2 linked regions of the Homo sapiens genome follow. The protein of the gene in region 1 interacts with the protein of each later gene in a pairwise test. Each region holds a gene or a part of one and is shown on either strand. Other genes may lie near its edges.

Evidence for each region.
Region 2: the proteins of EPN2 (region 1) and ARRDC1 interact in binary tests that used the Homo sapiens proteins (3 or more experiments, as listed by UniProt).

What each region holds. Positions count from the first base shown.
Region 1 is NC_000017.11:19,240,268-19,247,399, forward strand, and holds part of EPN2 (epsin-2), read left to right. Parts: intron 1-7,132. UniProt on the Homo sapiens protein: Plays a role in the formation of clathrin-coated invaginations and endocytosis.
Region 2 is NC_000009.12:137,608,686-137,615,685, reverse strand, and holds the end of ARRDC1 (arrestin domain-containing protein 1), read right to left. Parts: intron 3,264-7,000; exon of another isoform or gene 2,930-3,263; coding exon of another isoform or gene 2,791-2,929; coding exon 2,680-2,790; intron 2,227-2,679; coding exon 2,176-2,226; intron 2,072-2,175; coding exon 1,917-2,071; intron 1,706-1,916; coding exon of another isoform or gene 1,655-1,705; coding exon 1,472-1,654; intron 1,388-1,471; coding exon 1,211-1,387; intron 1,128-1,210; coding exon 686-1,127; coding exon of another isoform or gene 613-685; coding exon 548-612; 3' UTR 326-547; downstream 1-325. UniProt on the Homo sapiens protein: Functions as an adapter recruiting ubiquitin-protein ligases to their specific substrates. Through an ubiquitination-dependent mechanism plays for instance a role in the incorporation of SLC11A2 into extracellular vesicles.

The DNA.
Region 1 (7,132 bases):
TGGCGTCTCACGCTGTCACCCAGGCTGGAGTGCAGTGGCGCAATCTTGGCTCACTGCAAACCTCTGCCTCCTGGGTTCAAGTGATTCTCCTGCCTAACCTCCCGAGTAGCTGGGACTACAGGCGTGTGCCACCATGCCCGGCTAATTTTTGTATTTTTAGTAGAGATAGGGTTTTGCCATGCTGGCCAGGCTGATCTCGAACTCCTGACTTCAAGTGATCCACCTATCTTGGCCTCCCAAAGTGCTGGGATTACAGGTGTGAGCCACCATGGCCGGCCTTGGATTCGGGGAAGTTGAGGCTGGAAAAGATGTGAGGAATTACGTAGTTTGTATCCCTTTTTTGTCTGCTGGACTTTTAACTCATGTATTCGGTGTAAACAGACCTCTTCTGTCAATACTTTGCCGTCTAGCTCGTCCGATGTTTGGCCCCTTTTTCTCTGCTATCCTACCTTCACCAACCCACACAGTCTGCTGGTGCACTTACGACATTGTCCGTGTATCTGGGGCTCTTGTGACACTGTGACGTCTTTGAGGCCAGTGGTCAGCTTGTCTTTACTTCTCCAGTACCAGGCTCGGTCTCTGATAGATGGTAGATGCTCAGTAAAGGTTTGTCACCAGTATTCCTCGAGGCAGGGGAGCACATTTTTATGGCTCCCTACTGTTCTGTCGCACTGTTGCTGAAATCACTACTGTTGGTTCAGCAATTGTGTGTCAGTTGCATAGGTTTATCCACCTCATCTGCAGGTGAGGAAACTGAGGCCTAGGGAGCTTAAGTTACATGCTCGAGGTCGCGCAGCCAGTAAGTGATTTGAACAGATCTGTTGGACTCCAAAATGTTATTATACCTGTTACCTACTTCGAGGACCAAGTCTCATGGGGATGAAGAGACACACTGCAAGTTAACAGTGGACTGAGGGAGGTGGGGTGATATGATTAAGGTGGTTGAGGATGGGAAGAGCACATTTGTTTTTTGTCAGATGCATTGTGAAATGAATGTTTATGTCCATCTGTTGAGTTTTTGAAAATTGACAAACTTGCCGGGCATGGTGGCTCACGCCTGTAATTCCAGCACTTTGGGAGGCCAAAGCGGCCGGATCACCCTGAGGTCAAGGGATCGAGACCATTCTGGCCAACATGGTGAAACCCCATCTCTACTAAAAATACAAAAATTAGCTGGGCGTGGTGGTGCACACCTGTAGTCCCAGCTACTCGGGAGGCTGAGGCAGGAGAATCACTTGAACCTGGGAGGCAGAGGTTGCAGTGAGCCGAGATCGCACCACTGTGCTCCAGCTTGGCGACAGAGCAAGACTCTGTCTCAAAAAAAAAAAAAAAAAAAAAATTGACAAACTTTCTGATAAGTTCGTCAATGGAATTTTATTGCTTAACTAGTTCATTCAAGTTAACTAAAAATAGAAACTTAGAAAAACAAATACAGTGAAATAAGTATATGTTGAAAGCCGTTTCAGCAGCCTTTTTTTAAACCACTGTAATTTCCATCAACATTTAACATAGGGATTATCACCCATTTGTGAGTAGAAAAACTGAGGCCCAGAGAGGTTAAGTAAGCTGTGAGGAACTGGCACAGCCAGGATTCAAAGTGAATCTGTGTAATTCCCAGGCCTGGGTCCCTTCTGCTCCACTGGCCCCTGTAGAAGGCCCCACAAAATAATAGGTATTCATTTAAATAATAGAATAAATTTGTTGTCTGAAAGTCACCACCAAGTTTATTTAGAAGGTTGGGAATTGTGAATAACGAGATTTCTGGCTCTTTCCTAACCTTAGAACCTTTGAAAACACTGTGGTTTGAATGTCAATAATTAATGGATCATTTTAGCTGAGAGACACTAGATTTGGTGTTTGATCTGAAAAAAAAAAAAAAAAAGCCTAGGCCAGCCACGGTGGCTCATGCCTGTAATCCCAGCATTTTGGGAGGCTGAGGTGGGCGGATCACTTGAGGCCTAGAGTTTTTGAGACGAGTCTGGCCAGTATGGCAAAACCCTGTCTTGACCAAAAAAATACAAAAATTAGCCGGGCATAGTGGCATACACCTGTAGTCCCAGCTACTCAGGAGGCTGAGGCAGGAAAATCACTTGAACCTGGGAAGGGGAGGTTGCAGTGAGTCTCCAGCCTGGGTGACAGAGCAAGACTCTTGTCTCAAAAAACAAAAACAAAAAACCTGTCTTCTTTTGAACCAGATCCGCAACATTGTTAAAATGCTCCCTATCCATGCATTGGATTCTTTCTGTGACTCATTCCCCTAGTACCTAGGTGCTGGAGCCTGCTTCGTTCCTGGGCATAGAAAGTCCTTTTCCTGATTCTGTTTCCTGTTGGTCCTGGTCTAGGCAGAGTGTGCTTCACTTTCAAGCCCTCTAGAGACAGGACAGGTAACTTAATTCTCTTTCTGTTCAAAGCAATACAAGGAATTGGACATGCAAAGGGCTGTAAATAAAGGGACTCCCCATCTTCTCTTCATGGTAACCCTGCTGATATATAGAACAGGGAAAAGTAGGCTCATCCTGGGGGACGGCTGATTGTTTAGGGCTAATGCATGATGTGGATTTAAAAGCATTTATAATTAATCACTTCTGAGTGCAGGCTTCATTTTTCCTCTTGGTCCCACCCCTCTTAGGTAGTTGCACGTTGCAGCAGCTCGATAGCTGAGAACACCAAGTGGTACAGTTAATTTGGCTTCAAAGGCCATGTGGCAGATAGCTTTGGAATGAGGTGTGGGTACTAATGGGCCTCCTGGCTGGGTGGCTTTGGGCACTTTAATCACTGAGCTTTGGTGTCCTCATCTCTAAAGGGGGGCTCGTAATCACTACTTCATGAAATAGACTAGCCTTGTTTCTCAAACTCCTGTGTGCAGCAGAAGCACCCAGAGGGCTTGCTGAACACGTGGCTGGGGCTGCACCCCATTGTTTCTCATTAGGGAGGGGAGGCCTGAGAATGTGTCTTTTTTTTTTTTTTTTTGAGACAGAGTCTTGTTCTGTTGCCCAGGCTGGAGTGCGGTGGCGCGATCTTGGTTCGCTGCACTCCACCTCCCAGGTTAAAGCGATTTTTCTGCCTCAGCTTCCTGAGTAGCTGGGATTACAGGTGTGTGCTACCATGCCTGGCTAATTTTTTTTTTTTTTTTTTTTTTTTTTTTGAGACGGAGTCTCGCTGTCTCCCAGCCTGGAGTGCAGCGGCGCGATCTCAGCTCACTGCAAGCTCCGCCTCCCGGGTTCACGCCATTCTCCTGCCTCAGCCTCCCGAGTAGCTGGGACTACAGGCACCCGCCACCACACCCGGCTAATTTTTTTGTATTTTTAATAGAGATGGGGTTTCACCGTGTTAGCCAGGATGGTCTCGATCTCCTGACCTTGTGATCCGCCTGCCTCGGCCTCCCAAACTGCTGGGATTACAGGCATGAGCCACTGCGCCCGGCCATGCCCGGCTAATTTTTTGTATTTTTAGTAGAGATGGGGTTTTACCACGTTGGCCAGACTGGTCTCAAACTCCTGACCTCAAGTGATCCGCTTGTCTTGGCCTCCCAAAGTGCTGGGATTACAGGTATGAGCCACTGTGCCTGGCAGAGAATGTGTATTTTTAGCCAGCTTCCAAGTGCTGCTGATGCTGCCAGTCTAGGGACCAAATTTGGGAACCTTGGCCCAGAGGACTTTATGGGAAGGTGTGTAAGATGTCTAGCACCTGCTGGCTGTGCAGTAGGAACTCAAAAATGACACTGAAATGTTTCTGAATATTGGTCTGAAGATGATGGATGGCGTGACATTTGGAAAGGAAATGGGGAGAGAAGATGTCATTGTCCTTCAAAAAGGCTGTAAATCTTGGATGCTGTTGAAAAAGCAGGTTCATCATTCTCACACATCATGTAAGAAGTTTACTGTCTAGGCCTTTTAGAATTGTAACTTGGGGGCTGGGTGCAGTGGCTCATGCTTGTAATCCCAGCACTGGGAGGCTGAGGCTGGTGGATCACTTGAGGCCAGGAGTTGGAGACCAGCATGGCCAACATGGCGAAACCCCATTTCTACTAAAAATACAAAAATGAGCCAGGTGTGGTGGCGTGGGCCTGTAGTCCCAACTACTCGAGAGGCTGAGGCACGAGAATTGCTTGAACCTGGGAGGCGGAGGTTGCAGTGAGCCGAGATTGTGCCACTACACTCCAGACTGTGTGAGGGAGTGTGACTCTTCTCAAAAAAAAAAAAAAAAGAAAGAATTGTAACTTGAAAAGGTTGAGGGAGTAATGTTGTTGGGTCCTGGATTCCCACGGGGCCACTTGGCATGGACCACTGGTGTTAATGGAAGTTGCTTCTCCTCCCTGCAGCAATTCAGATTTAATATTCTTTCATGTTTACAGTTCGAATTTTTTTTCTTCAGTGGTAATTATCAACTTGTCCATCAAAACCGAATGTGCAGGGAGGTGTGTGTGAGCCCCGATGGTTTTTGAATATTTCCTGTGTGCGAGGCCTTATATTACTAATTTTATGCACTGTGTTTAATTTTCATGGTGGTCCTGCAAGCCCTATCACCATTTCTCATTTTGCATTTTAAAAAACTAAGAGGGGTTCAGTAACCTGCCCCAGGCCATACAGTTAGTATGAACTCCTGCTGGTATGCCCCAGCTGGTATTTGCTGCCACCTGTGTCAAACTCAGAACTGCTTTATTTCCACGACCTCATTTGCAGCTGTGCCAGGTGCGCCCATTACCTCACTGTACCCTCACAACAACCCCAAGAGGTAGGCTGAGCAAGCTGAGGCTCGGAAGAGGCAAGCTTGGTCATGGGCACCTGGCCAGTGGCTGGCTGGACCTGAATTCAGTCCCACACCTGTCTGATTTTGGAGCTTTATGAAGTTGTTTCTATGATAACAGCTTACCTCTCTGTCAGGTGGCCCTAAGCTGCCTGGATGTGTACAGCAGGGACCTAGGGCTACCCTAGATGGCTTGACCCCAAGGAAGTCTGTGTGGGCTAGTAAGGGTTTTTGTGTTTGCAGAGCTGTGTTAAAATAATTGGCCAAATTTTTCCTTGAGCGAAGGGGACATTTCTTTTTACTTTGTGATCCTGCAGCTCTGCACACTGGTGTGGGTACTAAGGACTGAAAACCCTCTACTAATGCTACTTTGTTAAAAGGGGGTCAAATATGGAATTTGGTAGTCTTTTTTTTTTTTTTTTGAGTTGGAGTCTCTGTTGCCAGGCTGGAGTGCAGTGGCGGGATCTCAGCTCACTGCAGCGGCGGGATCTCAGCTCACTGCAGCCTCTGCCTCCCAGGTTCAAGCAATCCTCCTGCCTCAGCCTCCCGAGTAGCTGGGACTATAGGCATGTGCCACCACACCCAGCTAATTTTTATATTTTTAGTAGAGATGGGGTTTTGCCATGTTAGCCAGGATGGTCTTGATCTCTTTTTTTTTTTTTTTTAAAGATGGAGTTTTGCTCTTGTCGCCTAAGCTGGAGTGCAATGGCGCGATCTCGGCTCACTGCAACCTCCATCTCCTGGGCTCAAGTGATTCTCCTGTCTCAGCCTCCTGAGTAGCTGGGACTACAGGCACGTACCACCACGCCTGGGTAATTTTTTTGTATTTTTAGTAGAGACCAGGTTTTACCATGTTGGCCAGGCTGGTCTCGAACTCCTGACCTCAGGTGATCTGCCCGCCTCGGCCTCTCAAAGTGCTGGGATTACAGGCGTGAGCCACCATGCCCGGCCCTTCTTCATCTCTTGACCTTGTGATCCTCCTACCTCGGGCTCCCCAAGTGCTGGGATTACAGGCGTGAGCTATCGCACCCAGCTGGAATTTGGTAGTCTTAAAAAGTTACATGTGGCTGGGCGTGGTGGCTCATACCTGTAATCCCAGCACTTTGGGAAGCCGAGGCAGGTGAATCATGAGGTCAAGAGATCAAGACCATCCTGGCCAAATGGTGAAACCCCATCTCTACTAAAAATACAAAAATTAGCTGGGCGTGGTGGCGCATGCCTGTAGTCCCAGCTACTTGGAAGGCTGAGGCAGGAGGATCGCTTGAACTGGGAGACAGAGGTCGCAGTGAGCTGAGATCATGCCACTGCACTCCAGCCTGGCGACAGAGCGAGACTGTCTCAAAATAATAAGAATAATAATAATTCCATGTGAAGTATGTCCTTCCCCAGTAGGCAATTAACACCTGGGTTCTAGCCAATGGGTAATTTTCTCTCTGGTCTTAAAATGTCCTGGGGAGGCTGGGGTGTGAGCATTTTCCCAAGGTTTGAGCACTCTTTGCAGCTCCCCAACCAAGGAATGGTAAACAGCTATGTGTTGGTGCTTGCCCTGCACTTGTGGGAGGCCCTGGAGGCTTGGACTTGAGTTTGTTTTGTGAACTCTTTAAGACTCTGAGGTGAATAAATCAATGTGAGCAAAAAGTTGTATTAAAAGGCCCCTTCCGCCCCCCCCAAAAAAATATCCTAGCAATAAAGGGACGCAGTTGTTTTGTTTTGTTTTTTTTTTCCCCCCTGAAAGCAAGTCCTCCCTGTGTGCCTTTTTTTTTTTTTTTTTTTGAAGCGGAGTCTCGCTCTGTCACCCAGGCTGGAGTGCAGTGGCGCGATCTCAGCTCACTGCAGGCTCCGCCCCCGGGTTCACGCCATTCTCCTGTCTCAGCCTCCCAAGTAGCTGGGACTACAGGCGCCCGCCACCACGCCTGGCTGATTTCTTTTTGTATTTATGGTAGAGAGGGGGTTTCACCGTGTTAGCCAGGATGGTCTTGATCTCCTGACCTCGTGATCTGCCCACCTCAGCTTCCCAAAGTACTGGGATTACAGGCGTGAGCCACTGCGCCCAGCCCCCTGTGTGCCTTTTTGATACTCAGAGCTGTCCTGGGATATAATGACTATACTATGGATGACAAAATTTGGGAAACATCTGATTGGAGAAAGAATTTGTATGTCACTTTATGAGAAGCAGCTGGGAGATGTAGAAGTATGGGCATTTCAAGGACAGTTTCATGACTGAGGCCAGTGTCAACCTGAAAAATATGGAACACGTGATCTAGAGGCAAATAATGGTTATAAATGAAATGCCACCAAGAACTTAATCTAATTGAGAAGACAAAGTTACTATTTGTGAGACAGAAGCTAGCAGTTTGTTGAGCCATGATTTTGATTCTTTGTCAGG
Region 2 (7,000 bases), on another chromosome or scaffold:
GGAACCTGGGTGCCTAAACGCAACAGGAGCCAAGGCACAAATTTAACCAAACACCAAGGTTGCGTGAGGCCCCATTTCATGAGCCGGGCTCCAAGGACGTGTCCTTAGGCGGCTCTGGAAGGCCCAGCGCCAGCCCCCGTCCTCTGTTAAAGGGAGCCAGCCCCGCGGCTCCGCCCAGGCATGGTAGCCTGAGCGCGCCCCCAGGGTAGTAGGGGGCACCTGAGGAGCAGGGTCTGCCCTGGCATGAGCAGAGCCCAGGATGGGGTCAGGGTCAGGCCCTGCCAGAGGCTGGAGGGTGCCCAAGGCGAGGCCGGTGAGGCCCAGCTCTACAAATAAAGTGTTTTATTTACAGGAGTTGTCTCTCCAGGTCCCAGCTCCCTGCCACCCCCACCCCAGCCCCAGGGAGAAGAGGGCGGATGCCAGAGGAGCTGGCAGAGGCTGGGCAGGTCCTGAGTGGGCCAGGCTAGGCCAAGAGAGAAGGCACGAGGCCCTGGGCGCCCCAGTCCCAGGGCAGAGGCCAGGCCTGCCTGGAGAAGGCAGCACGGGGTCAGCTCTCAGGGGTCAGGCTGGGTTCCACGCCGCCGCAGCTCTGCTCATAAGACGGTGGGGCCTCTGCGGGAAGAAAGCAGGGTCTGCGTGGGGCTCTTGGCGTCCCCTCCCTGCCAAGCCCTGGCTGTCGACTCACCATAGGGGTAGCCCCAAGAACTGTACTCTGGAGGAAGAATCAAGGTGCTGGTAGTGGGCACTGGCCCCCCGGAGCCCTCTGCAAAGTAGGGGACAGTGGCACCTGTTGAAATGCACAAGGGAGGGTGCAGCGGGTGTGAGGCAGGGCTGCCATCCTGAGGGCAGGGCTCCGGCGCACCAGGCACAGAACTCAAGGTGGCCAGCAGGGGCTGCCGCTGCGAATGGCTCTTGGTGGAGAGGAAGACGGGGTCCAAGAAGTGGGGGCCGCCAGCCGCAGCCTCAGCCTCAGCCTCCTCCTGGGGTGGTGCGGAAGGCACCACCAGGGGTGGGGCCCCAGGAGGCAGCCCCAGGCCTGGCCGGGGGCTCACTGGGGCATGGTTCACAGCAATATTGCCAATGAAGACCGGGAGGGTCACAGTAGCTTCCGGCGCCTTCAGAGAGACCTGGACAGGATTGAGGTGGGGCATGAGGGGCCAGGGCCAAGGCCACTAGGCCTCAGACCACCCAGCCCCCAGCAGCACCAAACCTGTAAGTAGTAGTCGATGTGGATGAGGCTGCAGCCCGGCAGGGCCGACTGGGGCAAGGCAGGCACCAGGATCTGCTCGTGCCACTGCGCCCGCCGCCAGGCCTTGACGCCCGCACCCTCCACCTCCGCAATGGTCCGTACGTCGTGGATCCAGCGCTTGGCCTTATAGGACACTTTCTGGGGAAGGACCAGCCTGTGAGCCTGCGCAGGCTGCCAGCCCACCCCAGGAGGCCGGTCCAGGCAACTGGCGGGGGCTCTGACCTGCAGCAGACTGGCCACCACAGGGCTGGTGTCCTTGCCTGACTGGTTCTCAACGTCGGCATGCAGCTGCAGTGCCTGCCCCACCACATAGCCGCGGAGATCAGTGCTGGCTGTGAGGACCACGCTGCCCGTCTTCACCAGCTTGTAGGAGAACTTCTTGGTGGCAGAGGCCACGTTGGGTTGCTTGGGGGGAGGGCCAGGGAGGGGCTTAGCAGGTGTGCGCAGGCTGGATCCCTGTGGCATTGGGACAGGCCCCTCAGCCCTGCCACGCCCTGCCCCTGGACATCAGCAGTCAGCTCAGGGCAAAGAGGCCACTGCCTCCAGACCCTGGCCCCCCTCACCTCAGCTGGGGACAGGACGCTGGGATGAAGCAGTGCCTGCCCAGCTCTTCCCCAGCCTCCATGAGGGTGGGGACCCACCAAGGAGGTCACTGTGCCATCCTCACCTCAATGTCTGGGATGCTGTTCAGGTTCAAGGGGCTCAAGATATAGAACACGAGGCTGCACTTGTGATCCTTGGAAAACCGTGGCGTGTGGATGGCGGCCCTCACCTGGTGCACGATCTTCCCGAAAGGACCCTCAAAGGACGTGGGTGCAGTGGCTGGGGAGAGAGCAGGCACTGGTACCTGGCTGCCTTCCACCCTGCAGAGCCCACCTCCCAGGACCAGTTGGTCATCACCAGGCCTGTCCAGGCTGGGCTCTCACCAGGAAGCAGGAACTGGAAGGGGAAGCTGTGCTCTCCAGCGGGCAGGCTCCCTGCAGAGACAGGAGGGAGGTGGGGGGCAGTCCCCCCCTGAGGTGGCCTGAGGTGGCCACAGGGCCAGGATAAGAGTGGGCACTGCAGCTGACCAGCTCACACTGGGTCTCCCTGTCTCAGTCACCAGCGCCACAGCAGCACAGGGCTGTGGCTTGGGTGAAGGACTGAGGATAAGAGCTTGGCTTGAACAGGAGAGTGGTTTGGGAATGGGGCAAGGGTGAAACAGCTGTGCCAGGGGTCAGAGCCCACCCAAATCCAGCACAAGGGGGAGGTGGCCCCTTCAGCCACCCAGCGCCTATGAGAAAGCCATCAGGGCCCACAACCCTGGGACAAGATGGGCCAGTGCCAGATCCAAGAGGCAGATCTAGGAAAGGGGGAGGACAGGACAGACAGGCCCCACTCCAAGGGCTGCCCCCAGGGGTCACCACTCGGGAACTGGCTCCCAAACTTACCCTTGTCTGCCAGCGACAGGGAACTGTTGAAGTAACCCTCCTCCACTACCCACGCTGTGTCATTAGCCTTGTTGGAGACCCCGCAGGAACCTATGCAGGTCACCCGGATGGCTGCAAAGGGGATGGCTGCATGAGCCCCAGCCAGCCGACGGCCCAGGCCCCTGCTTGCTGCCAGCACAGGAATTCGACCTGGGGCCAAGCAGCACCACCTGGGCAGGGTCCTGGGAAGGCCAGTGAGCAAGCAGCCCATGCCACTTCAGAGGACATCTGCCCATCTCCTGTCTTGGGGGGCTCCAAGGGAATCAGGCAGGCGAGGGGCCTGACCAGCACAAAACGACGTCTGCCCTGCAATCCAGAGCAGAAAGACCCCAACGCTCATCCAGATGATGGCTGGGTTACCCCCCAGATTGGTAACCTTGGCTCCCAGCCAGACCTGCGAAAGCTCAGCTGCCTACAGGAGACACTCGGGACACACCAAGGGGCGCATCTTCTTGCTGCCCTGTGGACAAGTCAGTCAGGCAGGGAAGGACCCGTCCACACTCCAGGAAGCTAACTGCCAACCATCATGCTGCAGGAATGTGGCCAGACCCGCCTAGGCAGACACAGTGTTCCACAGTCAGCACACCGTTGGGTGGGGCCCTACTTCCTGGGCGAGCACTGCCCAGCGGGGCTGACTTTCTGCATCAGGAGACGGCTCAGTCCTCTCCGGCCTCCCTGGGGGAGTGCCCAGACCAGGAACTGCTTGAGGCAGAGGTGGCACTGTTCTGTGGCCAGGAACACAAATTCCTTAGTCCAACAGATGTGTGTCCAGAAACCATGATGATCAGAAGATCATGGCTGGACAATCAGGTCCAGCAGAAGCTGGTCACAAGGGAGGACAGACGCAGCAGAAGTACACACAGCACAAGACCCAGGTGGGCAGGGGTTGGGGGAGACAGTGGCAGGCCACCTGCACCTCCAGCCCCTCTTCTCCCTGCAGGGCTGAGTCAGGGCCAAAGATGGCCACCTCCCTGCCTGGTCCTGGTGGGGGTCACGTGAGGAAAAGGTGACTCAGACTCTGACACCTGCTGAGGGAGCAGCCAGGCAGGAGGAGTACCGGTGTGCCGAGCGCCCAGGGTCAGCCATACCTGCCTCACCTGTGGTCTCCCCAGCAGGCCCCACCTGTGGCCCAGGCCTTCTGCCTGCCACCCAGAGCAGCAGGATTCCTCTCACAATCCTTGGCTCAGCCGCAGCCCCACGTGGCTCTCCACATGCATCCTGCCTACCCCTCGGCAGCTGCCAGGCCCAGTCCCCCATCCCTGAGGGTGGCCCTTGCTTCCTGCTGCACGCCCTCTACCCCCGGGCGCTGCCAGGGCCTGTCCTCAGCCTCCATTCCAGCCCAGCCTTGCCACCCCAACCTCGGTCCATTTTTTGTTTTTTTGTTGTTGTTGTTGTTGTTGTTGTTTTTGAGACACGGTCTCACTCCCGCCGCCCAGGCTAGTGTGCAGTGGCACGATCTCGGCTCACTGCAGCCTTAACCTCCTGTGTTCAAGCGATCCACCCATCTCAGCCCCGCAAGTAGCTAGGACTACAGGCACGTGCCACCACACCTGGGTTTTGTTTTTTGTTTTTTGTTTTTCTTATAGAGACAGGGTTTTGCCATGCTGTCCAGGCTGGTCTCAAACTCCTAAGCTCAAGCAATCCACCTGCCTCAGCCTCCCAAAGTGTTGGGATTACAGGCATGAGCCACGGTACCCAGCTCTGCTCTGATTTTGAATCCATGCTCTGTTAGCCAGGCCCTCCTCGGGCCAGACCCCATACTGTGTTCATGCTGAAAATCCGGAACACCAGTAATCCTCCTGTGGACCAGCAGACAGCCCAACAGAAGCACATGGGCATGAGCAGGCACAGAGGAGGGTGGGCGTGGCTGAAGCAAGGAGAGGAGGCCTGGGGACTGGAAATGCTGCCGTGCTTTTAACACTCCTGACAGACTGCACATCCCCACCTTGAATCCCGCAAATGCTGGGACCCAGCTGGGTGCAGTGGCTCACACCTGTAATCCCAGCACTGTGGGAGGCCAAGGCGGGTGGATCACTTGAGGTCAGGAGTTCAAGACCAGCCTGGCTGACATGGTGAAACCCCATCTCTACTAAAAATACAAAAAAGGCCGGGCACGGTGGCTCATGCCTGTAATCCCAGCACTTCGGGAGGCCAAGGCAGGCAGATCACCTGAGGTCAGGAGTTCCAGACCAGCCTGACCGACATGGAGAAACCCCATCTCTACTAGAAATACGAAATTAGCTGGGCATGGTGGCACATGCCTGTAATCCCAGCTACCAGGGAGGCTGAGGCAGGAGAATCGCTTGAACCTGGGAGGCGGAGGTTGCAGTGAGCCGAGATCGCGCCACTGCACTCCAGCCTGAGCAACAAGAGTGAAACTCCATCTCAAAAAAAAAATACAAAAATTAGCCAGGCATGGTGGCACACGCCTGTAATCCCAGCTACTTGGGAGGCTGAGGCATGAGGATCACTTAAACCCAGGAGGCAGAGGTTGCAGTGAGCTGAGATCGCACAAATGCACTTTAGCCTGGGTGACAGAGCGAGACTTCATCTCAAAAAGAAAAAAAAAAGAAAAATGCTGGAACCCACAGAGGATGCCGGAAAGGGGGCAGTGGTCCCCAGACTAACCCGTATGCCAGCCAAGCACCCTCAAGTGATCCCAGCTGGTGGCACAGAACTGAAGATTAACCCTGCCCTCACTGTCCAGATTCCTAACCCACAACGCTGTGAGATATAATAAAATGGTTGTGTTAACTGTTTTAAGAATGGTGTCTGACTTGAGGTGACCGCGACTTTTACGTAGCAGTAGGTAACTGGAACAGATGTCCAACCTCACTAGAAATTACAGAAAACCCGGCCGGGCGCAGTGGCTCAGCCTGTAATCCCAGCACTGTGGGAGGCCGAGGCGGGCAGATCACGAGGTCAGGAGATCGAGATCATCCTGGCTGACACGGTGAAACCCCCGTCTCTACTAAAAATACAAAAAATTAGCCGGGTGTGGTGGCGGGCGCCTGTAGTCCCAGCTACTCAGGAGGCTGAGGCAGGAGAATGGCGTGAACCCGGAAGGTGGAGCTTGCAGGGAAAGCCCAAATGACCTACCATTTCAATCCATCAGATTGACAAATATTAAATGTCTCGACACAGCTGGGCGCAGTGGCTCACGCCTGTAATCCCAACACTTTGGGGGGCCAAGGCGAGCGGATTGCTTGAGGCCAGAAGTGTGACAGCAGCCTAGGTAACACGGTGAAACCCCATCTCTACCAAAACTACCAAAGATTAGCTGGGTGTGGTGGCGCGTGCCCCTGGTCCCAGTCACTCAGGAGGCTGTGGTGGGAGCCCCGGAGGAAGGAGTTGCAGTGAGCCAAGATTGTACCACTGCACTCCAGTCTGGGTGACAAAGTGAGACCTCATCTCAAATAAAATCAATGTCTTGGGGCCAGGCACAGTGGCTCACGCCTGTAATCCCAGCACTTTAAGAGGCTGAGGCGGGCGGATCACCTGAGGTTCGGAGTTCCAGGCCCGCCTGACCAACACGGAGAAACCCCGTCTCTACTAAAAATACAAAATTAGCCAGGCCTGGTGGCGCGTGCCTGTAGTCCCAGCTACTCGGGAGTCTGAGGCAGAAGAATCACTTGAACCAGGGAGGCAGAGGTTGCGGTGAGCAGCTGAGATTGCACCACTGCACTCCAGCCTGGGTAACAAGAGCAACGTAAATAAATAAATAAATAAATAAATGTCTCAACACACGTTGGAGGGAGGTGGAACACAAACACCCCTTATTCCAGTCAAACTGCAGACAAGTACGAGGTTCTGGCAAAGAGTGGGACAGGTCTACTGTAATTTTACCTGTGCATACCAGGAGACCCAGAATTCCGCTTAGAATCTCATGGTATTTAACCGGGAGCCTCACACGCCACTGCTCCTACTAGCAAAGCATCGCGAAAACCGTCATGGGACATTGACTCCACAAAAACAAACAGTATGCAACTGACCCTTGGGTCATCCTAAGGGTCCAGGTTCTGTGATCTTCCCAACGCCCATGCAGATGGCCCCGTTTTGCACATACACCAAGGCTCTTTGAGATGACTCTGCCAGAGTAAGCAGCCTCCAACCACTGTCCAAAGTGAAACCTGTCCCGAGCTGCCCCACACACTCCTCAGTAAGAACACGGGAGGCAAGGGGCTCCCGCACAGCTGCCAGCTGCTTCCCTGCCAAAACACCTGGAGCTGCTCCTCTGCCTCTCAGCAACTGCTTCAGGTCAGGCTGGGTGAATTTCCCAGGG